Homo sapiens: one gene and its partners. The protein of the gene in region 5 interacts with the protein of the main gene of each other region in a pairwise test. Each region holds a gene or a part of one and is shown on either strand. Other genes may lie near its edges. The genes, in order: DAGLA, SFT2D1, LNPEP, HMOX2, STOM, CYB5B and TMPO.

The links.
Region 1: the proteins of STOM (region 5) and DAGLA interact in binary tests that used the Homo sapiens proteins (3 or more experiments, as listed by UniProt).
Region 2: the proteins of STOM (region 5) and SFT2D1 interact in binary tests that used the Homo sapiens proteins (3 or more experiments, as listed by UniProt).
Region 3: the proteins of STOM (region 5) and LNPEP interact in binary tests that used the Homo sapiens proteins (3 or more experiments, as listed by UniProt).
Region 4: the proteins of STOM (region 5) and HMOX2 interact in binary tests that used the Homo sapiens proteins (3 or more experiments, as listed by UniProt).
Region 6: the proteins of STOM (region 5) and CYB5B interact in binary tests that used the Homo sapiens proteins (3 or more experiments, as listed by UniProt).
Region 7: the proteins of STOM (region 5) and TMPO interact in binary tests that used the Homo sapiens proteins (3 or more experiments, as listed by UniProt).

The regions. Positions count from the first base shown.
Region 1 is NC_000011.10:61,679,058-61,683,190, forward strand, and holds the start of DAGLA (diacylglycerol lipase-alpha), read left to right. Parts: upstream 1-1,333; 5' UTR 1,334-1,447; intron 1,448-1,754; exon of another isoform or gene 1,755-1,775; intron 1,776-3,445; exon of another isoform or gene 3,446-3,543; intron 3,544-4,133. UniProt on the Homo sapiens protein: Serine hydrolase that hydrolyzes arachidonic acid-esterified diacylglycerols (DAGs) to produce the principal endocannabinoid, 2-arachidonoylglycerol (2-AG).
Region 2 is NC_000006.12:166,325,546-166,329,045, reverse strand, and holds part of SFT2D1 (vesicle transport protein SFT2A), read left to right. Parts: intron 1-688; coding exon 689-770; intron 771-2,878; coding exon 2,879-2,914; intron 2,915-3,500. UniProt on the Homo sapiens protein: May be involved in fusion of retrograde transport vesicles derived from an endocytic compartment with the Golgi complex.
Region 3 is NC_000005.10:96,977,580-96,981,079, reverse strand, and holds part of LNPEP (leucyl-cystinyl aminopeptidase), read right to left. Parts: intron 1,943-3,500; coding exon 1,102-1,942; intron 1-1,101. UniProt on the Homo sapiens protein: Release of an N-terminal amino acid, cleaves before cysteine, leucine as well as other amino acids. Degrades peptide hormones such as oxytocin, vasopressin and angiotensin III, and plays a role in maintaining homeostasis during pregnancy.
Region 4 is NC_000016.10:4,503,898-4,507,397, forward strand, and holds part of HMOX2 (heme oxygenase 2), read left to right. Parts: intron 1-1,586; coding exon of another isoform or gene 1,587-1,627; coding exon 1,628-1,713; intron 1,714-2,997; coding exon 2,998-3,115; intron 3,116-3,500.
Region 5 is NC_000009.12:121,346,251-121,349,750, reverse strand, and holds part of STOM (stomatin), read left to right. Parts: intron 1-427; coding exon 428-631; intron 632-1,601; coding exon 1,602-1,736; intron 1,737-3,500. UniProt on the Homo sapiens protein: Regulates ion channel activity and transmembrane ion transport. Regulates ASIC2 and ASIC3 channel activity.
Region 6 is NC_000016.10:69,459,119-69,462,618, forward strand, and holds part of CYB5B (cytochrome b5 type B), read left to right. Parts: coding exon 1-3; intron 4-3,311; coding exon 3,312-3,402; 3' UTR 3,403-3,500. UniProt on the Homo sapiens protein: Cytochrome b5 is a membrane-bound hemoprotein functioning as an electron carrier for several membrane-bound oxygenases.
Region 7 is NC_000012.12:98,543,090-98,546,589, forward strand, and holds part of TMPO (thymopoietin), read left to right. Parts: intron 1-1,140; coding exon 1,141-1,260; intron 1,261-1,352; coding exon 1,353-1,448; intron 1,449-1,861; coding exon 1,862-1,972; intron 1,973-3,269; coding exon 3,270-3,358; intron 3,359-3,500. UniProt on the Homo sapiens protein: May help direct the assembly of the nuclear lamina and thereby help maintain the structural organization of the nuclear envelope. Possible receptor for attachment of lamin filaments to the inner nuclear membrane.

The DNA of each region.
Region 1 (4,133 bases), on a different chromosome or scaffold from region 5:
TTTTCCTTGTTACCTACGTGAGTTTGCTTTCTAAATAATCACAGGTAACACAGAACTCCTTCCAGAAGTGGCTCCATCTGCTTCAATAAAAGGCAGTCCTGGCCTCACAGTCTCATTTCCAACCCAAATGTCCACGTAATTTTCAGACCGAGGCTTCTGCTCAAGCCGGGCACCCCACTACCCACACCTCCTTGTTCACCTATGGCTCCCACTTCTACTGAACTGCGCGATCACTGTGATTTTGGGGGTGGCAACAGGGCCTAGGAAACATTTTAGAGGCACTTCTCTTGCCTGAAAGAAAACGTTCTTCCCCTTTTTGTCTCTGATGAATCTTTACTGGATCTTTGGGACCCAGCTGAGTCATCCCGACCTGCAGACTGGACTCCCATCCCCAGGCTTAAATTCCTTTCCAAGGGCTCTGTCTGTCCTCTCGGCTTAGCTTCTGTGTTAAAACCCCCTCCATCTGCGTCTCCTCCCCAGCAGAATGAGCTCCTTGAAGTCAGGGCCCGCCTTCTGCTCCTCTCTGTGCTCCACTCCCCCAGTTCAGCACAGTGCTCCCAGGGAGGTGTAAGCGACTTACGGTGAATGAAAGGGCGTGAAGGGGAACAGGAGGGGCGGTTTTCTTCATTTACCAGAAATTCAAAATTGACCAAGTAAACCCCTTTGGAGACCAGGCACGATGCTGGGCACTGGGAACGGGGGTAGGGGTGGGGGGTGGGGGGGTGGTAGGGAGGAGGGGGTACCCAGGGTACCCACGGGCTCTGTCGCCCGTGGGGAAGGATGGGCATTTACCCTTCCCATTCATCAGGATGGGAGGGCCACGGACTCCCCCCACGGCAGTGCCGGGTAGACCCCTGCACCACACCGTGCCAAGGCCCTTTCTCACAGTCACGCCAGGAACTCTAGCCATGCTCTGACTTCTCAAGCAGAGTTCAGTCACCCCGAGGAGGTGGGACCCGTCTCTCTCCTCCCCACAAATGAACCAGTTCTCCAGTGATCCTACTTCCTTTTTTCCCTCTCCCACGCTAAAACTGGTCACGAGGGACCTAAAGGAGGGGCAGGCACCCAGGCGGCTCCCTTCCCCGCACGCATCGCGGCCAGTCCAGCCCCTCCCGGCCGCCCACGGGACCCCAGCCGAGCCTGAGCCAGGCGCCCACCGCCCCCACGCGCAGGGCCGGCGCCCGCGGAAGACTCGGCTCTCCCTGGCCTCGACGCCGCTCCCCTCCCTGGCGCCAGGGGGCGCTGCCTCCCCACGACCGTCGCCATGGTCACCGCTGGCGGCGGAGAGGGGTTTACGTAAAGGACGCAGCGTCCCCCGGGGGGCGGAGGCGGCCTTCGCGCCGGCGCCGGCGCCCTGCGGAAGCGGCGTTAGTGAATCGGGGCCTTGGGGAGCCCAGGATGGAGGTGGCGGTCGCGGCGGCGGGCCGAGCCCTGCGGCGGGCGGGAGGTAAGGGGGGCCTCCGGCGCGGCGGGCCGGTCCTGGGCGCGGGCGCGGTGCGAGCGGCGCGGCGGGCTGGGCAGTGTCCAGGGCGCGCGGTGGCCGGCCCGACGGGTCGGCGGGCGGAGTTGCAGCTGCCACGCGCGCCCGTGGCAGGTGTGAGGTCTGTGGAGCCCCTGGCACCAGCGTGGGGATGGTGACACGCGTGGCACGGGCGTGGGCAACGTGGGTCCGGCACAGGCGGCGTGGTTTTCCTGGAACGGGTCTCAGAAGACTCGCCTCCACCTTGGTGCGGTGGTGGCCACGCAGGTGTGAGGTGGTGCAGCTGTCTGCACAGGTAGGTGATGGGCACGGCCTTCGGACTGGTTATGGGATAGGTGGCCAGCTCGTGCCGGCATGGTGGTGCCGCTAGCATGGGTGTGAGGAAGTGCTGCCATTGCTTGGGTGTTGGGATGGTTCTGGCCTTGGGCTTGACATGATCTGGGGTGATAGCACTGGGGGCTTGAAGAATTGGTGTTCTCAGCATGGCTAGAGTTCCTGGCATGACTGTGAGAAAGGGCCTTGGCACGGTGTGGTGCGGGGGGCTACCCGGCACTGCCGCGGGGGGAGTCCGTGGCCCTCCCATCCTGATGAATGGGAAGGGTAAATGCCCATCCTTCCTCACGGGCGATGAAGGGGACACTGCCTCTGTCATGGGGGTCCAGTTTTAATGCCTGTTGGGTACACTGGACTGAGGAGGGCAGAAGGCTGGGAGAAGGTTGGTGTCCTTTATAATGGGCATAAACAAGAGATGCCAGGAGAAGCTTCTACCACAAGGGCCCTGATGGTAACCCAGATAGAGACCTTCCAGGCACTACCGTTGTCCTGGGCTAAGGTAGAGAGAACCATTCATCTAGCTTTTCATCTAGCTTTGGGAATGAAGGGAGGGGTGGATGATTTTCAGTGGTGATCGGTGTCCCAGAATATGTCCTGAGAAGCAAGCAGGACCAAGAGGTAACCCGGGTCAGCGAGTGAGGGAGTGGTATGGCGCACCATCTATCTGTAGTCACGGGGTCCTGCCTTCTCCCTGGGTTGATGGGTTCACTCCAGGGTATCTGGGAGTTGCCTCTCTTCTTTGATGCTGGGGAGCCTTTGGGTCCAGAGGATTGGATCGATTGGGGTATGCTTGAAAGATGATTCTGCAGCCACTGGGAATCTGCTGGGGCCACCGGGACTCCCACCCCCAGGCTTAAATTCCTTTCCAAGGGCTCTGTCTGTCCTCTCTGCTTAGCTCCTATGTTAAAACCCCTCCATCTGCGCTGAGATTGTGTTTGCTCTCACCAGTCCTTTGGGAAGCTTTGGGTGAAGGTCTCACTCAGCATCACCTAGTGCCTTACTTTACAGAGAAGCAATTTGCAGCTCCTCCTAGAGAAGTCTTACAGTGTAGGGGAAATCTTCAGTTCTTTGTGGATCTCTTGGGGGAGTGGGATCAGTGGTAGAAGAATCACAGGGTTGAGCTTGTGCTGGGGAAGGCACTTATGAGTCCAAAAAGATGATGTTGAGGGTAGGGTGGCAGGTGGTCGCCAAATTGCCAAGGTGGGTGCTTGGAGATGCTGATGAGTTCCCTATAACCGGAGCACTGTCCGATGCCTTTGGAGCCATATCACTTTAATTCCAGTGTTGGCTGTGTGACCTTCAGCAGGTGACTTCACCAATCAAGGCATGTCACATGGTGGTCTGGTAGTAAAGAATGAAAGGAAATGGTGCACGTGGAAACACTTTGCAAACAGCGAAAGACTGTACAAAGGTCAGAGAGTCTCATCAAGTAAAGAGACCAGGGCTGGAGGCAGGAGCCATAGGAAATGGTGGCACGGGATGTGATTGGGAGGAAGGGAGCCGGAAGGTTGAGGGCCTGTCATAGGGAATTAGAGGCCCTGAGCGCACATGCTCCCGGTGGGGGCAAGTGGGATCTGTTGACACTGTGAGTCAGCTGCTGAGCTGGAACCAGGCCCCCGGTCTCCAGAGGACAGTCCTGAGCATGGCCCCGGCAGCTGTGAAGTCCTGCAGGAGTGGCCCAAGCAGGAGGAAGCACTTTGCTTGGGCAGCAGACGTGCCTCATTGCCAGGGTAGGTCTGGGAGGTGTCTGTGGCTGACAGATCTAGGGTACCTGTGTGGGAGGAAGACTTGGGAAGTGTGTGTGTTTTCTCTGGAGAATTTCCTTTGGCTCTGGGTTCTGAGAACGGGGGTGGGGAGCAGTCACATCAGCGTCTTTTGGGCTGTGGCCTGAAGGAAATGAAGTGGGTCAGAGCATCCACAGATCGATGTGGCTCAGGTCTGGATGGTTCTGCGGGAGGTTGAGGCTGGATGGCAGGGGGACGGGGGGGGGAGGTGTGGAGGATGCCCTCAGACACATAGGGGAAAGGAAAGGGGGCTACAGGCACCTCTGAGGGCAGACAGGTGTGGCACCTCTCCCAATGTGGCCCCACTTCTGGCTGAAGTGCCTTCCCAGGTGGGGAGGATGAGGGTGGCTGCACAGTGCTTTGCTCTCTGCCACCAGGAGCCTAATTCCCGACAACAAGCTGCAGAGCCTGAGTTGCAGACCCTGCCCCATGGCGCTGGAAGTCCTGTTTTTCTCTCACCCAGGCCGTTTCTTCAGCATTCCATGCGGGTGTCTGCCTTAGCCAGCAACCTGTTTCACATCCTTGCTCCCCGAGGA
Region 2 (3,500 bases), on a different chromosome or scaffold from region 5:
ACTCTAGGCTTTGTTCTTGTGGAGCTTACATTTTAATGAAGAAGATGTTCACATGATAAGCCAGAAAAAGATGGGATGGCATTGGTGCTGTGCAGAGAATTAAAACAGGGTGTGGCAGTAGTGACAGAGGGCTACTTTATATTGGGAGTATGAGAATCCCTCTTTGAGAATCTTTGTCGCATCTTTGGGTTGTTGTTTGTCTTAGCCCTTTTTATGCTGCAGTAACAGAATACTGTAGACTGGGCGACTTAGGAAGAATAGAAATTTTTCTCACAGTTGGAGGCCTGAAGTCCAAGGTTAAGGCACATCCATCCTGCTGATAGATGCATCCCCCAAGGGGAAGATCCCTGTGTCCTCCCAGGGCAGAAGAGGAAAGAGCAACCCCCAGGCAGCCTCTCCTCCAAGGGCCTTTGATCCCTTTCAAAGGGAGGAGTTCTCACAGCCTAGTCCGGTCTTCATACTAACACACTGAAGACACTTACATTTTGGAGAAGACACCTTCACACCATAGCATGTCTATTGGTATAGTTGTAAAGTTTCTTTATAAAGTTAAGGAAAAAAAAAATTTTAGTGAGAGATTTTAATTAAATAAAGCAACAGGGCTTCTTTTTTAAAAAAGTAGTTTATTTTTGCATAACCAGATAAATTAGTAGACCTGTACCTCAGTCACTTTATTTGTTTCAAATAGTACATGCTTTTTAATGGGACCTGTGAAGCAACTGAAGAAAATGTTTGAAGCAACAAGATTGCTTGCAACAATTGTTATGCTTGTAAGTAAATAATACATTTTTAAAACTTTTATTGAAGTATTCTTTGCACTGTTATTTTACGAATAATTGCCTGTTATGTATGTATACTTCTTTTTTTATTTTTATTTTTTTTTATTATTATACTTTAAGTTTCAGGGTTGTATGTATACTTCTTGTGTTGAATATAATAATTATATCCGGCCGGGCACGGTGGCTCACGTCTGTAATCCCAGCACTTTGGGGGGCCAAGGTGGGCGGATCACCTGATGGCAGGAGTTCAAGACCAGCCTGACCAATATAATGAAACCCCGTCTCTACTAAAAATACAAAAATTAGCCCGGTGAGGTGGCATGCACCTGTAATCCCAGCTACTTGGGAGGCTGAGACAGAATCACTTGAACCTGGGAGGTGGAGGTTGCAGTGAGCCAAGATCACACCATTGCACTCCAGACTGGCCAACAAGAGTGAAGCTCCATCTAAAAACCAAAAAAAAAATATATCCTATGTGGTTATAGAGTTCAGATGGTACAGTATTGTCTAAGACTACTGGCTGGGTAAAGCCTGCTTCTGCTGCGTATATGGCATGGTGTAGCTGCGTATTTAAATGGAGCCTAGAGCTGAGTGTGCTTTCATTTTTAAGCCCTGCTGATGGTTTCATGAGGGATTGTTAGTTTGTACCCTTTAGAGGGTGGGCATAGACACCCTCTATGCTGAGGGTGAGATTTAGCATCATTTGTCATCTGACTTTTGTCCCTTCTCTGTGTGCCAACTTGACAAATTCTAACAATATGGCTCCCGTAACAGTATCTTTAAAGGTGCCTTCCATTACATTGTGGGTTCTGTCCACAACTCTCAGGTCATCACTCTTATTATCTTGAGCCTGGGTGGCGGGTAGATGAGAGCTTACACTTTGGCTAGTAAGGTTGTTTCCATTCTCATACGTGCTGGGTGTTCAGCTGATCATCGTTTTGTGTATTGTGGGCAGGAGGGGGACCCAAATCTCTTCTGCATCCTGCCTCTGCCTCCTAACTCACCTGGTCTGTGTCTCTTGTGGATTTCTTTTGCCTTCAAGCATTTATGATATTTAAAGAATTTAAATGTTACCATTATAACTATTAACATTAGCTTTCCAAACACAGCTAACCTATGTTAATTTATAAGGAAATGTTTGTTAACTCTAATCTGCCTGGCAGTCTTCTCCCATCTCCTCACTAGAGTAAAAACTCATTTTTAGCTTTATTTATTATGTCTTTATTCAACTTCATAGTTTCTTACCACTTTTATAATCTCCAATTATTTTGAATTTCCTATAATAGCATATGTATCAACATATATATAAACATTTAACTTCAGATTACTAACAAAGTATATTTCACTGTTAGAATATAAGTAGTTTATATTCCACTAAGATTTTAGTTAGTTTTATTTAAGAAATCCTGGCACTTACCCCTCAAACTTTTTAGTAACATACTGTACCTTACAAAAACACACATGTTGAGAGAACGTGGGAACGTTTGAACATATAAGACGTCTCCCAAGGTGGAGCACTTTGCGTGGTTTGATTTGCTGCCCACGTAAGATCACGCCTAGTAATGGTGGTGAAGAGGCTGTGCCACATAGAGCCTTCCACATGCCAGCTTCTAGCTCAAGCCCATCACGGATGCACTCTACCTTATTCATTACAACAGCCCTTTAAAGCAGGTAGGTAGGAACTCTCCTCATTTTAAAGAGAAGACAACAGGTTTAGACGAGTCCACTGACTTCACCAAGGACCCTCAGATAGCAGGCGTCAGAGCTGGGATCTCTTTAGGTCTTTCCAACACCACACTGCCCACCTCTTGCATTCACTCCTGTGCCTGCTTGCTTTCATGGGGATGTGGAATGATCATCTTTCAGTTTACTTAACAGATTAAATTATTAGATGCTTCCAATTTGCCAAGGAATATTGCAGTCATAGACTTTAAAGTAAAATAATACTTACAGAAAATACAAGTAAAACTATTCAGCTGTATTCTTATTTTTGTTCTATAGTATATTCCCTATGTAAATGAATGCAGAATAGTTTATGCATTTTTATTAGGCTTTTGAAAGGATCTCAAACTTATAATCTACTCTTTCTTCCCCTGTAGTTGTGTTTCATATTTACCCTGTGTGCTGCTCTTTGGGTAAGTTATGTCAGCCCTACTGGCTTTCAGTTAACTGTGTGCCCCCCACCCCAGCTGACGTGTCATCACACCATTATCTTAAAATAGCTCATCTGTTTTTTTAAAACTCTCTAAAGATTAGGTGTTCCTAAAATTTGACATGTTACCATCCAGCTAGTTGCTAAAAATGCCATAGATTCTACTGTCTACAGCATAGAGGTAGTCAGTGAACACACATGTGCACACATGCTCACCCACCCAGCTGGTGGCTAAATGTGCCATAGATTCTACTGTCTGCAGCATAGAGGTAGTCAGTAAACACACATGTGCACACATGCTCACCTACCCAGCTGGTGGCTAAATGTGCCATAGATTCTGCTGTCTACAGCGTAGAGGTCATTAATAAACACACATGTGTGCCCGAGCTCACCTGCTTGTGGGCCTGGTTGGCAAATCTGACAGTGCCCGGTGTGGTGAAGGGCCCTGGCTCAGGGGCTGTGCTCTCCACCATGCTGCTGCAGGGGTGCGCTGTGAGTCTGCAGTGGTGAGGCAAGTGTGCTGCCGAGTAGCAAGGTGTAAAACCAATAGAGAGGGCCAGAAAACACAG
Region 3 (3,500 bases), on a different chromosome or scaffold from region 5:
AGGCATTATAGAAGGAGAACTAAAGGCAAGAACTTTCAAGTTCCCATTGCAATTATACATTTGTGTTCAATCCCAGATCTCACGCAAGAATTGAAATGCAGGGCCAGTATGCCATTTATTTTAAAAGTATTACATAGAGGGAAAATAAAATAAAAATTATTTATCTGAATAGAATTATGGATCTTGCTTGGTCTCTTTCTCCATTTAAGAAGGATCAAAAAGTTTCCTTTAGATGTAGAATACTCATTTCTAACTATTTCTCTTAATATGTCAACATACATTAGCCAAATGGTCAGCATCAGTAATTCACATATTGTTTTACAGAGTAATATGAGAGAATGTTCCAATTGCATAAAGCAGATGTCGTGAGGATTTTGTGCACAAGACAACTGATATCACTGCTACTTAAGAATAACCTCCATACTGTGTGAACTCCATCTTCCCAGAATTTCAAACTACATGCTATGAATGCTAAGATTAAAGTACTAAATATATAGTCCAAATAGGGAGCTGAATAATTTTATATTTTGTCTCACCTTTTTTTCTGAACCAAATTAAGTCTCTCCTAGACCTTAAAAAAAATTTACACCAGAAATCCAAAATAGACTGGCATTTTAAAAAATAATAAACCAGTAAAGATTAAGGATATTAAAAATGATATATGTAAGCACACCACACTTCACACTTCTTCATGCCCTCTTTCTGTATTTCACTAAGTACCTCCTAAAAGTTCTGCACATTAGGAAAATAGGTCTTAAAGAATAACTCCTCTTTACTCTGCTTCCCAACAGACTTCATGAGGTGACAGAAAACTAGATTCACCTTAAAAATGTGAAAAACTCAAGATAACAAGTTTTGGATATAATCTTTATCCATCCTTTTCCACCAGCACACCCCTATCTCCACCCCACCATGATATATGCTCAAGGCGTTGACTAAGAGAGATAATATATTGTTCTAAATCACCATTCTACTATTTTGTATATAACTTCCTAAATTAAAAAAAAAAATCACAATTCGTGTCTCTGGTGTGGACAAAGGGATCTATATTGCAGAAGTTATCAGAGCGTAAAACCAGAATCATTTAAGAGGGCTACCTACTTTTTCTCATTACTTTCATCTGTGTAGGAGAAGCCATAAAACCCATAATAAGAACTAGATATATTTGCCGAGTACTCTATCTTCAACGTATAATTGTGCCCTGCTAGAAGGGCTTCGGGGGCAACAATGGCGATCTGTCCATGATATGCATATTCCAGGATCTCAGCTTGTTTTTCTTGGCTTGAAACTGCTGACATAAAGGTCACTCTTGAAATATTATGACCTGTGCTATGAAGAATGATATTCCATGTGACCTGAAGAGCCTGAACTGAAATTGTCACAGAACCCCTGAATGTCATCGAGGTTAGGTTCGGGTGTAGGCTGAGTTCATAGCGTAGTGGCACAACGGCAGTGGGAAGCCTGATCTGTGCCCATGGAAACAATTTCCCATTTGTTGCAAATGGCTGAATTAGTCCAATTGACTGGTTTTTTTTATGGCAGCCTTCTTTGGTAAAGGTACATCTGGGCAGTAAGTAAATCACCATGATTACAGAAACAGCAACCACGATGACAAAAGCACAGACCACCATGGTCCTTGCAGAGGGTACTGAACAAGCCCCATCTGGGCTCTGCCTGTAACCAGTTGCACTGTTCCGAAGGCCTGAGCTTCTATTCATGAAGGACATGCCCAGCAGCTTTGCTGATGACTCATAATCCTCTTCATCCTCCTCCATCTCATGCTCACCAAGACCCCGCACCAGCAGTCGGGAACCCCGGGGCTCATATTCCACCTCATCAGGCTCTAGAGGATGTAAACAAGGCTCTTTGGCTAAATCCACCACATCTGGTTCTTCCTCAAACATGCTGTTTTCAATCATATTCCTGGGGAGCTGAAGCCGATCTAAAAAACCAAAACATAAGAACAAGGCACAGAGTTAGAAAAAAAAAAGCTCATAATATTAATAACATGTCTTCTACCTAGACCACATTTAAACTAAGAATTTTTTTAAGTCACTAAGACTTATTTCCATCTCAGAGCTACTGAATTAAATAAGATGTTTATACCATTGAGTCATCCATTAAAAACTAAAACATAAATAAAAGTATACCACAGTTATGAAACAAGAAAGCTAAATAAACAGGCTATTATATTTTTAAAAAGTTAGCTGAGATAATATACTAATTTCCTTAATATACTCCTGCCCCACAACCTGGGACCCTGCCCTGGGCTTGAGAGGGCACTGTTTTGGCATTCCTCTGACTATGTCTGTCCCCACCAGGCGAGGAGTCAGTAGGATCAAAGGGATGTGCCCACCTACAGTCCACGGTTCCCCTTCTAGGGTTTGGGCACTGCAATCCCAGAATTTCTGTCCAACAGGCCTCAAATCTGCTTCCAAGGTATTTGTGGGTCTCATCCCTGAGTCTCATTCTCTCTAGGGAGCACCACAAGCTGGTATGCCCATTTCTAAGATTGAGTATGGCTAAGCAACAGGATGGGTTATTGTTTTCCCCTGAAAGAGGAATGTTTCTGTCCCACAGCAAATGGGAAGCAGCAAATTATATGGGAAATTTCCATAAGCAAGAAATGATTTTTAAAAAGATCAAAAGACAATAAAAGTCAGATAAAATTATAATTCAATCTGTTTTTCATGCTTCCATGGCTTTCAGAAGTACAACATATTTCCATGGGAAACAACCATACTGCACACCATGAGTGTTAGTGGATCTCAGTGGGAGCTTTTACAAACTACAACAAACCACACCTTCCGATTTGCCAAAATCACTGAGAAAAAAGACTCTAGAAGTAGAAGGGTCGATAATCCCCCATATATCAGTACTTCCTAGGATTAGATCGTTCAATGTTTTTTATTTAAAATTCATACAATTTTAGTTTTTAAGGGATCTCAAAAGTTATCAAATTGAAACCTCCACTAATCTTCCCTACAAGGGAAGATACTTTATACCTATCATTTCTAACCCTTACAACAATCCTATAAAATGGCAAGTATTCTATTTTAGACATGAGAAAATAGAAAAAGAGAAATAGATTAATTCGTCTTCATAAAGTCACACAGCTATTTAGTCATAAAACTGATATTAAAGCACAGGTCTAAAAATTTGATTCAAAAGTTTATGCTCTTTTCATTATATTGCATCCCTCTACTCAAACTAATTCAATAAAAGATGAGAGCCCTGAATTATTTATTTCATACCTGGCAATGAAGTTGCTAAGAGTATTATTTCACCATCAGGAGAGCAAAGCTTACAAAAAACTACTGAATATCTAGCTTAAGATAAATGCTATGTATTTTGTGCTATTCAACAAACACTGTAATGGTGGAAACTCTTCATCCATAAAACATATTATTGATAAATATTAGGATAAAATTTGCAGTTTTGCTGTTCAGTGTGGCCTGTGACCCTGCAGCATTTGCATCACATTGCAGCTTGTTAGAAAC
Region 4 (3,500 bases), on a different chromosome or scaffold from region 5:
CCTTGGCCCAGTTTGGCCTGATTTGGCCCCAGTTCTGTCTTTGTGAGTTACTTTATTAGTTGTCGGTGCTACTGTGCTGCTATTCATGTGGAAGATTCCCCAAATGGGCTGCGCCTTACATTGCCTGAGCAGAAGCCCCGAGGGATGGAGGATGAGCTTGCCTTGTTATGGGACTGTGTTTCCCTGGCTGACAAAGGCTCAGCATTTGCAGCAGGCAATGGGAATTGATTGGCCAACTTAATATTTCCTTCAGCCTAGCAAAGTCCTGAGTAGGCTAGGGACAGTCTGCTTTTTTGGTAACTCCTGTAGGCTGCCTTCTGCACAAGGCACCCAGCCTCTCACAGGTAGGATGAACTGGCCTCAGCACGCTTGCAGAGGGGTGGAACTGTGCGTTGCTTGCCAAGCTTTTTGTTTCCCTAAGGTTTTTGAGGTTTTCTTTGTTTTTGGTAACTTTCAATTTTTTTTTTTTTTTTTTTTTTTTGGACAGAGTTTCACTCTTATTGCCCAGGCTGGAGTGCAGTGGCGCGATCTTGGCTCACTGCAACTTCTGCTTCGTAGGTTCAAGTGATTCTCCTGCCTCAGCCTCCTGAGTAGCTGGGATTACAGGCACGCGCCACCACATCCGGCTAATTTTGCATTTTTAGTAGAAACAGGGTTTCTCCATGTTGGTCAGGCTGGTCTTAAACTCCTAACCTCAGGTGATCCACCCACCTTGGCCTCCCAAAGTGGTGGGATTACAGGCATGAGCCACCGTGTCTGGCCTAACTTTTAATTTTGATACGGTCTTTTTTTTTTTTTTTTTTTTTTTTTTAAGACAGTTTCGCTCTTGTTGCCCAGGCTGGAGTGCAACGGCGTGATCTCGGCTCACTGCAACCTCTGCCTCCTGGGCTCAAGAGATTCTCCTGCCTGAGCCTCCCGAGTAGCTGGGATTACAAGTGTGCACCACCATGCCCGGCTATTTTTTGTATTTTTAGTAGAGACAGGGTTTCACCATGTTAACCAGGCTAGTCTCAAACTCCAGTCTGCCTCGGCCTCCCAAAGTGCTGGGATTACAGGCATGAGCCACTGTGCCCTGCCTTGATACAGTTTTAAGCATACAGAAAAATGGTAAGAATAGTACAAAGAACTCTCATACCTCTTCCCCAGATTCACTGCTAGGATTTTGCCTTGTTTGCTTTTCTGACTTGCCAGTGTCCCCCACCCTGCAGCATATGCACATGCACACACACTGTCTTCTGAACCATCTGACAGGGAGTTGCAGGCAGTGTACCTTTACTTCTGAATACCCCAGTGTGTATTTCTTAGGAACAAAGACATTCTCTTATATAATCGCAGTACAATTATTTTTAAAAACCAGCAAGCTTAATGTCAATACAATGCTATTACCTAATACATTGTTCATATTCAGATTTTTTCCATATTCCACTATGGTCCCAGTAATGGCAGAGCTTTATTTTAAAGAAAACAATCCTGGGGTGTGTGGGTGTCACCTTGGTTACATTCGCTCTGAGGAAAGCAGAACCGACAGGTATTTGGGGAAGTGACTGCCGTGGGTGCCACATCACCAGCTCCTTGTGTCTCTGCAGGACCAGAGGAGCGAGAGCAGCAAGAACCACACCCAGCAGCAATGTCAGCGGAAGTGGAAACCTCAGAGGGGGTAGACGAGTCAGAAAAAAAGAACTCTGGGGCCCTAGAAAAGGAGAACCAAATGAGGTGAGCGATGGGGGCTGGCTGCACTGAATCAGGTGGGCCCAGCACCTGTCGTGCTCAGCACACCTGGTTTTGTCTGTTGGCAGCACTGGGGAGTGGCCATGGGCCATGAGCTCTGGACCCCTGGGTGCCTGCTTGGCCCTGCAGGGACCGCATACAGCTTCGGCTGCTTAGAACTCTCCCCACTGGTCCATTGTCTCATCCAAGGAGGCAGGGCAGGTGCTCCTGGGAGTGCTGATAGGATTTGATGGTAGTTATCCTTTTTTCTTTTTAAAAACTTGTGCGTTTCCTCATCTGGGCTGAGAAAGGGTAAACGCAGGCAAAGCTGGCTCTGTTCAGTCTTTTACCACATAAAAGACTGCAGGGCAGCCTTTCCTTACTCTGTATAGGGACAGCTCATGCTAAACCTGAGCTTCCAGGCCCTGTTCTGCATCATTAGCCTCTCATAGCCCTGTCATTGGCCAAGTTTTTTTTTTATCCCTTGAAATAATTGCTAATAATAAATTGATTCTCAGCACATGGATGATAACGAGCTAATCTCCTAAAGAAGACAGCAGAAGCCAGACCATGATAAGGCCAAATTTTTCTCACTCTTGTAGATGGATTGTGTGGACACATGTAAGCCCCTGCCCAAGTACCACCATCTTTAGGATCACATGTTTTCTACCTTGTCCATCCATCCACACACCTTTACAACTGTGTAATTTCGTTAAGCAGCACAAACCCAGCGTCCTGGCCCTAGCCTCTCGGTTGTCTCCTTTGCATCCTTCCGTGCTTGGTCCTAGTCACATATAGTCTCAAAGAAGCTGTGGGTCCAAGGTGGGAGGAAGGCAGTAGGGCCATCTGAGGAGACCCATGGTCACAGCCTTACTGAGGTGTGTGAATTCCAGAAGACACGTTCCAAGGCAGGCTGTTCTTAGAGAAGCCAGCAAATACTGAAGGGAATACAGATGTGTGTCTCTTCGACCACTAGGTGGCCACAGAAGCAAAGCATTGCTCATTTGGGTGGTTCCCAACACAGACACATGGACGTGGGTACTACTCTCAAGGAGCAGGCCACAGTTATCCCTTGTGTCCTGAGTCCTTGGAGCAGAATGTCATGTCTGCTTGTCCTGTGTTCCCTGACAAGTTGCTGCTATTTGTGTTGGAGTGAAGTGTCTGAGAAGCCCCAGCCTCCAGTACAACAGGTGGTCACCTTGGGGTGTGGACTCAATCTTCTCTCTATGGTCCTTTCTGGAAAGCTGGGAAGGGCTAATTGACACACAAACACCTCCCATCTCTCCACAGAATGGCTGACCTCTCGGAGCTCCTGAAGGAAGGGACCAAGGAAGCACACGACCGGGCAGAAAACACCCAGTTTGTCAAGGACTTCTTGAAAGGCAACATTAAGAAGGAGCTGTTTAAGGTTTGTGCCCCGCATTGGGTTCCAGACTGTCATATGGGGTTGGGGTGGGGGCCTTGGTCCCATGAGAAAAGTGCCCCTGGAGCCACTCTGAGGGAAAAGCTGGGCTTTTCTCCACACTCCATTCCTTCTTGACGTTAAGCTCTGGCTCTCGGCTGGGTACAGTGGCTCATGTCTGTAATCCCAGCACTTTGGGAGGCCGAGGCAGGTGGATCACTTGAGGCCAGGAGTTTGAGACCAGCCTGGCCAACATGGTGAAACCCTGTCTCTACTAAGAATACAAAAATTAGCCGGGTGTGGTGGCGCGTGCCTGTACTCCCAGCTACTTGGGAGGCTGAGGTGGGAGAGTCACTTGAACCTGGGAGGCGGAGGTTACAGTGAGCCGAGA
Region 5 (3,500 bases):
CCTTGACTCTCTAGTGCCTCTCTCTTGAATATTCTTCCACTCCACCCAACACCCTCAGAAAAATTGTATTCCTTTCTTCAAGATTCAATTCAGGTATCACCCCTGCCACCCACAGCTGCCCCTAAGAGTTTCCTTTGATTCCCTAACCTCCTTCAAAGGAGGAACCAAGTTTTTTTCCTACCTTAATCCCTGGTACCTAGTACAGTGCCTGCTGTTGAGTGATATCTCAATATTATTTGTATGATTGAATGAATTAATGGACTTGAATAATTTATTTTATTAAATTTTAAAAGATATAATTAACTTTCTGATGCCTTACTAAAGAAAATCAGCTAGTGTTATAAGATATTCTGTAGAATAACATTCCTTACAGTTATGTTAAAAAAAAGTCGTTGACAGATGTAAAATTGCTTCCTTCATCTTGTAGATCCTCACAAAGGATTCAGTGACAATTAGCGTGGATGGTGTGGTCTATTACCGCGTTCAGAATGCAACCCTGGCTGTGGCAAATATCACCAACGCTGACTCAGCAACCCGTCTTTTGGCACAAACTACTCTGAGGAATGTTCTGGGCACCAAGAATCTTTCTCAGATCCTCTCTGACAGAGAAGAAATTGCACACAACATGCAGGTGGGGAGTACGTCAATGCTGTTACCCCCCAGAAGCTGAAAAATGAAGCAAAGAGTCAATGGTTGTTTGAGAACCTTTTATTAATTCAAGTTGTGGGGGTCTGTGACCGTTTTTTTTTCTTCATAGTAAAATTTTTCAAATTTGGCAGGAGGGGACATTTTTCACATTAGCAGTTCATGAGTTCATAACACTCATGCGTACATTTTTTTAAAATTTTCTTCAGTGTGTATTTTTTTCCAGAATCAGTAATAACCTTTTTGTTTAGAACAGAGGCTATTCTGCAAGATAGTGTAGGTATTCCTAAAGCTTTATTCTGTGTGTGAGTCCCATGAATTATAACTGTTGTGCTTTCCAGTCTTTCTTGAGTAACAGATATTCAGTTAAGCATAGCTTATTCAAAAAAGATAAAGTGCTATAACTCTGGATTCTTATTATTTGTATAGACTTCATCGTGGGTAAAATCTATGATTGTATTTGATATGCACAACAACCTATGAAATAGATGTGTGGTTTCATTCCTGACATTCTAAAGGGAGGAAGTTGAAGCACAAAGGAGTAATATGACTTACACAGAGTCACATTAGCTCAGGAGTTGGCAAACTGTAGCCTACAGGCTGTAGTTTTTGTAAGTAAAGTTTGACTGGAGTATAGCCACAGCCATTTATTTATATATTATCCATGGCTGCTTTTGACTACAACAGCTGGGTTAAATAGTTGAGACAGAGACTACAAATAAACAATCACTATATGGCCCTTTTAGAAGAAGCTGCTAACCCCTGCATTAGCTTGTTAGCAACAGAATCAGGATCAGTGAGCCAGCCCCTGCGTCACCATTCGTTCCACCGTGGGGTAACTGTCTCTCCACAACTCTCCCCAGCACCTTATCTCCTCCAAATCCCAATGAATACAGCCTCTGTCAGCATCTGGGCTGGGCTGAGGAGATTTAGCTTGCCTTCTCTCTTCCTAACAGTCTACTCTGGATGATGCCACTGATGCCTGGGGAATAAAGGTGGAGCGTGTGGAAATTAAGGATGTGAAACTACCTGTGCAGCTCCAGAGAGCTATGGCTGCAGAAGCAGAAGCGTCCCGCGAGGCCCGCGCCAAGGTAACTTTTTTTTTAAACTTGTTTTTCTTACTGAGTTTTCTCTTTTATTAATAATTATAAAAAAACGTAAAACATGCTTGCTGTAAAAACTTGAAATAATCTTGAAGTGGTAAAGTTAGAAGTGAAAACCCTCCCCGTAACTTCAAATCATATTCCCCCAGAGGTCACCACTCCTAACAGTTGAGTGTATTTGGATTTTATTTGACCAGGTTTTTGGATTACTGGCTTGTTTGTTTTACAAAAGTAGGGTTATACTGCACATGTTGTTCTGCGCTCTGCTTTTTTCATTTAATATTAATATCTATGGACGTATCAGTACATGTAGAGTTACCTCATTCTTTTATGACTGTGTGTACCATACTTATTCTCCCGATTCCATATTAAGGTCAAATTAACAGTTCCAACTTCGGAGCAAGTGGGTCATCATTCCATCCATACCACCCATCTCTTACTTATTTTTGGCTTCTTTTTTGTTCTGTTTCTTTTCTCAGGCTCTTTTTCCCTTTTACTGTTTCCTATTCCTCATTCTCTCTTTTCCTCTTGTTTATATTCTCTTACTTTGACATCTGCCTTTTTTCTTCCTTCTTTTCATCATCATCTGCCTATGTCTTAACCCTGCATGGGTGGCATGGCCCCTCTGGGAGGCACTGAGGAAATATTTGTTAACCTAACCTAGAAAAGAGTATCTTTAAAGATGATAATGTGTAAAATTTCAGGGATATCTCACCAAACCCAAAGGTAGGAAGTAGGGGCAAGTCTCACCAAAATTGGAACCAGAAGGCAGTTCAGGGAACTAGTCATTCCCTTTCCTGTGCCACATCTCACTGTAGATAGCTTGTGGTGGAGAATGTCTAGCTCCCAGGTTTAGATGTCTGCCAGGTGAACACTAAAGAACACAGACCAGCCCTAATTCCACATTCACAGAAGAGACAGTCTTTTTGGTCCAACTTTGGTCAAAGTGCAAAGATAGCATAATAATATGGTTCCACAGCCCTATGCCTGTGAATGGGCTGAAGAAGAAGAGCAGTTTTCATAGGAGGAGTTGCTGTGGACTTGACAAATCTCCCAAGACACAAGGAGCAAACCAATTTGTTGTTAGAAAATAGTAGTAGCTGGTCATCACTGGCTGACCACAGAACGCTGTTCTTTTCTTAGGATGCCCTTTAAGCCACAAACTGGTCACTATAATTTCTTAGCCAGCATCAAATAGGATAGTAGCTCATTTGACATGCGACTTCAGAATTTTGCATTAACCAAAATGTTTAGGTTTTCCTGGTATGATGATTGTTGCTTTGTGATGATAACCTGGTAGTACTACAGAACCCTCTAGTGCTTTCTTTCAAAACTGTTACGTTTAGAAGATTAAATTATGTTTACGATGTTATTAAATGTGCCCTATCATCTCCTTATTTTGAAAATTAGGAATTGCTTTTAACTAGAATATGTTATTAGGCAAAAGCCTCATTTCCAAACCAGATTGAATAGTAGAATGTACCATACATATACTACGTAGAATGTCAGAGCCCAAAGGATCCTCAGAGATTATCTTCCATAGGTGGCAAACACTTAGCCCAGATGCTAGCACTCCATCCTGCTATTCCCATGCTAGTAATTAACCACAGCACTGTTTTCCTCTGAGCTTAGACTTGGCCTCAGAACCCTTCTATAGCACTCTGGGTAACAACCCTCAACTGCTTAGAGTTAGCTCTAAAAAACAAAACTTGAGGCCAAGCACAGTGGCTCACGTCTGTAATCCCAGCACTT
Region 6 (3,500 bases), on a different chromosome or scaffold from region 5:
AAGGTTAGTATCTCCTTAACAGCTTTCCATACGTTCAAGGTAATGTCTGGCAAGAGACTCTTCCATAAGTATATGTATGTAACATAACTTATGAGTGCAGTTTGACAACTAATTCTTTTTTGGCCCAAATCATTGCAAATTCAGTTGTTCCTTGACATTAGAAAAATTAACTTTTACAGTTTCAGCCATTTTGAATAATCTAAAAGTTTCATGCCTTGAGTCATTTTTTAATCTTATTGTGACATAAATTGGAATCACACTCAGTAAGAGGCCAGGATGCATGGACAGGTAGCTACTATTGGGTCAGCCTTTAGTCCCGAAGTTCAACCCAGCTACATGATTCTACTTAAAACTTAATCGCATTTACTTCTCACAACCACTCTGTAAGGTAAGTGCTATTATTACATATTGCAGGAGAAAAAAATACTACGGTCATATTTAGGAATTTGGGTTTTCTCAGGTTTATTTACAATATATTCCTTGGCATTAATATTAGTAATTCATTAGTATTAGCTCTGAAAGTTATAAATTGCCTTACCTTAAGTGCCTCTATCTAAAATGACTGTGGAATCCTTGGCTTGTACAGTATCTTTGTGGAGATTATATAGAGCTAGCCATTCTATTTTTTGGACATCTCGAAGTATTTCAGAGAAAGAAAATATGTCTTTTTTTCCCATAAAGTATCAGATCTATTACTTGAGGTAACGGACACAGTATAAAAAATTACAAACTATTAGTAAATTTAGTTTCCTTAATATTAAGGGCTTAGGATCAGCGAAATGCTGCATAAAAATTTTGAAAATACAAGCCACAAAATTGCAGATTTTAAACAAAACTTATGCTTATGCAGGGCCGGGCGCGGTGGCTCACGCTTGTAATCCCAGCACTTTGGGAGGCTGAGGCGGGTGGATCATGAGGTCAGGAGTTCGAGACCAGCCTGGACAACATGGCGAAACCCCATCTCTGCTAAAAATACAAAATTAGCTGGGCATGGTGGTGCGAGCTTTGGGAGGCCAAGGCAGGAGAATCGCTTGAACCTTGGGAGGTGGAGGTTGCAGTGAGCCAAGATCGCTCCATTGCACTCCAGCCTGGGCAACGAGAACGAAACTCCATCTCAAAAAAAAAAACCAAACCTTATGCTTATGCTATAAAACTTAGACTTAAGCAAAGCATAAAACTGATAAAGAATTATTAGGTAGAAGATATAAAGAATTCCTACAAATCAGTTTTTTAAAACCTCAGTAGAATATGAGAAAAAGATTTAAGCACTTTACAGAAAAGGAAACACAAATGTAAACATATGGAAATGAGGTTTAATCTCATTCATCATTAGTGATATGTGAATTAAAATCATAGGTATATTTCATACCTAACCAGATTGGTAAAAATTAAAAATTTTGCAAATAAGAGTTGGTTGGAAAGTTTATCACCGACTCTTAAGCACTCCTAGGGTAATGTAAATGAGTATAATCACTTTGGAAAACAGTTTGGCATTATCTAGTAAATTTGATAGGATGACTTAACTTTTGACCCAGCAATTCCATTTCTAATGATATACTTGATAGAAATGTGTGCCCAGGTACACCCAGAAATATATGCAAGAATGTTCATAGCAGTGTTATTCGAGATATTCAAACATCAGAGACAACCCTAATAAATTGTGGTATATTCATACAATGGAATACTACAAAACAATAAAAATAAAGGAATCACAAACATGTAGTAGTCTAGATGGATCTCCAAGAAGAAAAATCTGTCTTATGGTAGGAAGTTATTGTTGAACCTGAATCTCCTGTGATGCAGTATAAATGTATTTCCTCTGGTTCTCTCCTCAGTGGCAGTTAAGTATTAGGAAAGATTATGTGAGGATTGGTGTCAACCATTCTCAGTCTTTTGTACTAAAGAAATTTTCTGGCCGGCGTGGTGGCTCATGCCTGTAGTCTCAGCAAACTGGGAGGCCGAGGTGGGTGGATCACGAGGACGGGCTGAGACAGAAGAATGGCGTGAACCCCAGAGGTGGAGCTTGCAGTGAGCCAAGATCGCGCCACCGCACTCCGGCCTGGGTGACAATGAGACTCCGTCTCAAAAAAAAAAAAAAGAAAGAAAGAAAGAAATTTTCTCCTTCAATGTTTTCTCAAGGATCCTACTTTTGGATTCTTCAGTCTCTTGCGGTTACTCTTCAAGGAGTCTGAATTCATTACTCTTATCAGGAGATTACTTCAGAGTTCCCATGTGCATATTGCTGTTATACGTGCCATATTGCTTGGTTTTGTAAACAAAGCTACCTGGCTGATATTCTAAACTAGTCCAGAGTAGCTTTCTGCTGTACGTAAGCATACAGAGTGCTAGGCATGTTTAGGCAAAGAGAATCATTTTTCTTATGAACTTCAGCTCGTTTTATTGACTTCAAAACCTTTTAATACCAAGACTCATATGTCTTAAGTAGAGGGGCAGCCGGGTCATTTGGATCATGGAAGAATTATACCTTAAAACTAGTGTGCTAATAAGTTCTATTAAAGAATTATTATGTTAAGGAGAATGATGACTGTTCTGAAGCTCCTAAGGAAGGTCTCTTGCAGTACTTTTGAAGCTGCCATTTGCTTCACCCTGTTAGAACTGTATATGCTTTGTGTGTATGTGTATCCTTATTAGTGTCCAAACTTAACTAGGGATTAAGAGGATGGGTTTGGAATCAGACTGTCCAGCTGCCTTTCTAGCTTTGGGATTTGGGGTGCAAAGCTTATATTTCCCTTGTATGAGATGAGAATAATAACCCTATTTCGTAGGTTATCCTATTTCATAAGGATTAAATCTTTAAAATACATATGAAGCAGATAGGATATTTCTGGTAGTTATATTAGATATGATTACTTCCAAATTTATATTGGGATGGATATGTTTTTATACATATATGAAATGTCACATACATAATGGTGTTTTTTCCTGTTTAAAAATGTTTAATTGTAGAATACGTGAAAAGCAAAAGCACAATGAAGAAAATGTGAGAGTATCCATAATCCCTAACTCAGAAATAACCACTATATGACTTTGTAGAAACACATATAGAGGCATTTAAAGACATCTTATTTGATATCATACTATTGGTTGTTTTTAACCTTTTAAAAAATTACTTTGTAATATTGTCACTCCAATTCAAATATTTTTCCCCAACTACTTTGTGATAAAAGCAGTTAAATTTCCCAAAGTAAATAAAAACTCCTTGCCTATATAAAAACATGTGAAAGCTGAAAGATAGTGAACATTTGGCTTAAAATATTAACAACTTTATTGCTTTCTCCCCCTATTCCTAGTTGCTGGGCATATTGGATTTTACCCATCATAGGCGCTGTTCTCTTAGGTTTCCTGTACCGCTACTACACATCGGAAAGCAAATCCTCCTGAGGAGGCCTTGCTGAAGTTAGAAAGTGCATCCACTTTGGGGCGAAAACTAGAGACTTGCTTGGGGGCTGCAGAAGTGCCCTCTCCTCGAATCCTGCCAG
Region 7 (3,500 bases), on a different chromosome or scaffold from region 5:
GGTAGTATTACATCCAGCCATTTAGGCATATTTATTGGATGACCACTCCTGTCACAGGATTAAAGTTTAAAAAAAAAATCTGTCTTTAATAGACATTGACTTGGACCTAAAACCATCAGTAATCTAGGTTAAATATTGGCGTGAAAGCAAAAGTGACAACAGAAGGACACTCTACTATAATACTGATCATTGATGGATGTTCTGTAGTTAAAAGAATTTAAAAGAATCATCTGGTAATAGCGACTTCAAAACTGAAAACCTTAAACTACTTGGAATGCGGAATTTCGGGCCCTACAGCTACAGAATCAGAATCTGCATTTAACAGAAGCTTCAAGTGATTGATAGGCACATTACAATTTAAGAAGAACTGATCTAATGGGTTTTAAACCAGTATGTAAGAAATGCTGGATTCTTTAAAAATGATCAGTGGAACATAGAAATTAATCTGAGACTGAGAATTAATCTGAGGCAGCTGTTTTCTGTCTTTCTGTAGTGACATGGATAGCATTGAGATTTGAAAGTGACGTTAGGCTTGCATATTCATTAAAGAGTGACCACAGGGTTTTTGTGGCTACCTAATTTTGTATCTGTTTCCAAGAAAAATTTGACACCTGAGAATTTTTTAGTTCAAATAAGCTATATGTGGGATTATAATTTAAACTGATTCTACTAAAATGATTATAACCATATGAAAATAATAATGTTTATGCTAACAATTACAAAAGTTTGTATTTTTGTTTTAAAAGGAAACTGACTTATAATAGATGACTTTTTTCTAAGTCATGATCAGTCTGCTTTTTGTTTAGACAGAGATGTAGCTCCAATACTAGAGCCAAATAGCACACAGTGAGTCAAAAAGGGAACTGGTGATAGTTGATGTGCTTTTTTTCCCATAATGTTTATAATTTGTGAGCTACTATAGGTGGATTCTTTAGTGTATTTTAGCACTTTTTAAGTGTTTCCTGATGCCTAAATATCAGTTCAATTAATACATTTAGGAATATTTTGAGGACATAGCCTTGTTTGTAAATGCTGGCATTTGGAGACTTCTATTTCATGGCTTCTCAGTGTGCCAGTATGGCCGTTATTAAAGTATTTGATGTTAGAATATGACTTTTTAATGTGTTGATGCTTGAATAGAGCTATTCTCAAGCTGGAATAACTGAGACTGAATGGACAAGTGGATCTTCAAAAGGCGGACCTCTGCAGGCATTAACTAGGGAATCTACAAGAGGGTCAAGAAGAACTCCAAGGAAAAGGGTGATGCAAGGCTTATTCCTTGGGTTTTCAGATTTGTAGGGTTTTAGTATTATTTTATATTTATTGTTTTTGTTTTGTTTTCAAACTAACAGGTGGAAACTTCAGAACATTTTCGTATAGATGGTCCAGTAATTTCAGAGAGTACTCCCATAGCTGAAACTATAATGGCTTCAAGCAACGAATCCTTAGTAAATATGTTTCATAAACTATACAAGTGGTATTCTTTGTAAATTACCCTTTAATTGGAAATGGGGAGGTGGTGAATTTTGGCAAATCTCAAATTTACATGTTTTTTTTTTTTAACAATTTTAAACTGATTTTCCCCATATAGTTCTGAATTTTAGAATTTTCCTATAATATCCAATTTATGTAAAGAAATCTAATTCATTGTACAAGAAAGTATAAGGATATTTTTTGTTAAAATATTTGAAGAATGAGGCTTCATATGTGAGGCACTAAGTTGTGTTTGTAGGCTGTGTTGCTTAAATCTTTACTAAGGGAAAATTTCTAATATTACAGAGATAAAATATCTTTCTTTTCTTTTTAAGTGTCTGTGTTATGTTTGGATAATTCTGAGTCTGAATAATTTGAATCTTGGCAGGTTGTCAATAGGGTGACTGGAAATTTCAAGCATGCATCTCCTATTCTGCCAATCACTGAATTCTCAGACATACCCAGAAGAGCACCAAAGAAACCATTGACAAGAGCTGAAGTAAATGAATACAATTTAGATCGATGCTATCATTGATCTTTCAAAGAGGAAATATAAATATTTGTTTGTTTTTTTTTTTTTTTTTTGGAGTGGGAGGGAGCAGAGCTTTCTTTATTGGGTGGTGTGTGTAAATATGCATAAATTATTTTAAGGACACTTTTATTAGTGAAAACAGAAATTAACTAATATAGTTTGACATGCTAATACTATCCTCTTGCCACTGTATCCCTCTTAAGTTCCAGTTTTCAAGGGAGTGGTCATTTCTGTTCTGCTTATAATATGTTCTGTTTGTCATGGATGCAAGTTTGAAAGTGCTGCTGGGCTATGAGGGAGGCTACACTTTCTTTTGTTGACGGGTCAAATAAGAGACTTTAACATAACTTCATGTGGTGCTGGAATGGGTTAACTCCTGTGTAATTAAGCTTGAAAGTACTAACTGCATGGTGCATTTTAATTTGAATGAATCTTTACAAAAGGAGCCGAAACATTTATTATTTTGTTCTGGACATAAAGGTAAACAGTAAAACAAGCTAAACATTATATTTTTTTTAATTTGGGCATATTGCATTGACTATAATTTTAAAACATATAGTAAAGTTTGCTAAAGGTTCATGTTAAGTATCTTCTGTATTTTATCTTTTACTACAGAATTCTTAATAAATGAAGAAACAGTATACTTTTTTTTTTTTGAAACGGAGTCTTGCTCTGTTGCCCAGGCTGGAGTGCAGTGGCACGGTCTCAGCTCACTGCAACCTCCGCCTCCTGGGTTCAAGCGATTCTCCTGCCTCAGCCTCCTGAGTAGCTGGGATTACGGGTGCCCGCCACCACGCCCAGCTAATTTTTGTATTTTTAGTAGAGATGGGATTTCACTATGTTGGTCAGGCTGGTCTCGAACTCCTGACCTCAGGTGATCCACCCGCCTCAGCCTCCCAAAGTGCTGGGATTACAGGCGTGAGCCACCGTACCCGGCCCAACAATATACTCTTAATAGTAAAAAACAAAATCAATGAGGGAATTAGCATTGCCATGTTAGATTACTGAATTTTTTCCCCCCAGTTATTTAAATGTGTGGCAGTTTTTCACTCCAATAACCACATATATAAGGTATCTTCAAGAAATTTGAAGAGAGCCTTGGAAGCATGTGGATACCTAAATAATAATTTAGAAATGGCAGCTGTAAAATCTATGATAGATTTAAAGGCATTTTGTTCTCTAAAACTTACTATTTATGTTTTAATTATTGCATGTTTACACTAAATTTTAACTTGTGGTTGTTTGTTTGTCTGTTTCTTATTAGGTGGGAGAAAAAACAGAGGAAAGAAGAGTAGAAAGGGATATTCTTAAGGAAATGTTCCCCTATGAAGCATCTACACCAACAGGAATTAGGTATTCAGATACATTTAAACAAGTACTAGTGTATTCTAGTAGGGAATCTTTATTTTTAATTCTTCATCACAAAGTTACTGTACTTCTGCTCAGAATTAAGCTGTTTTTTTGGAGCCAGGTACAATGGTACATGCCTGTAGTC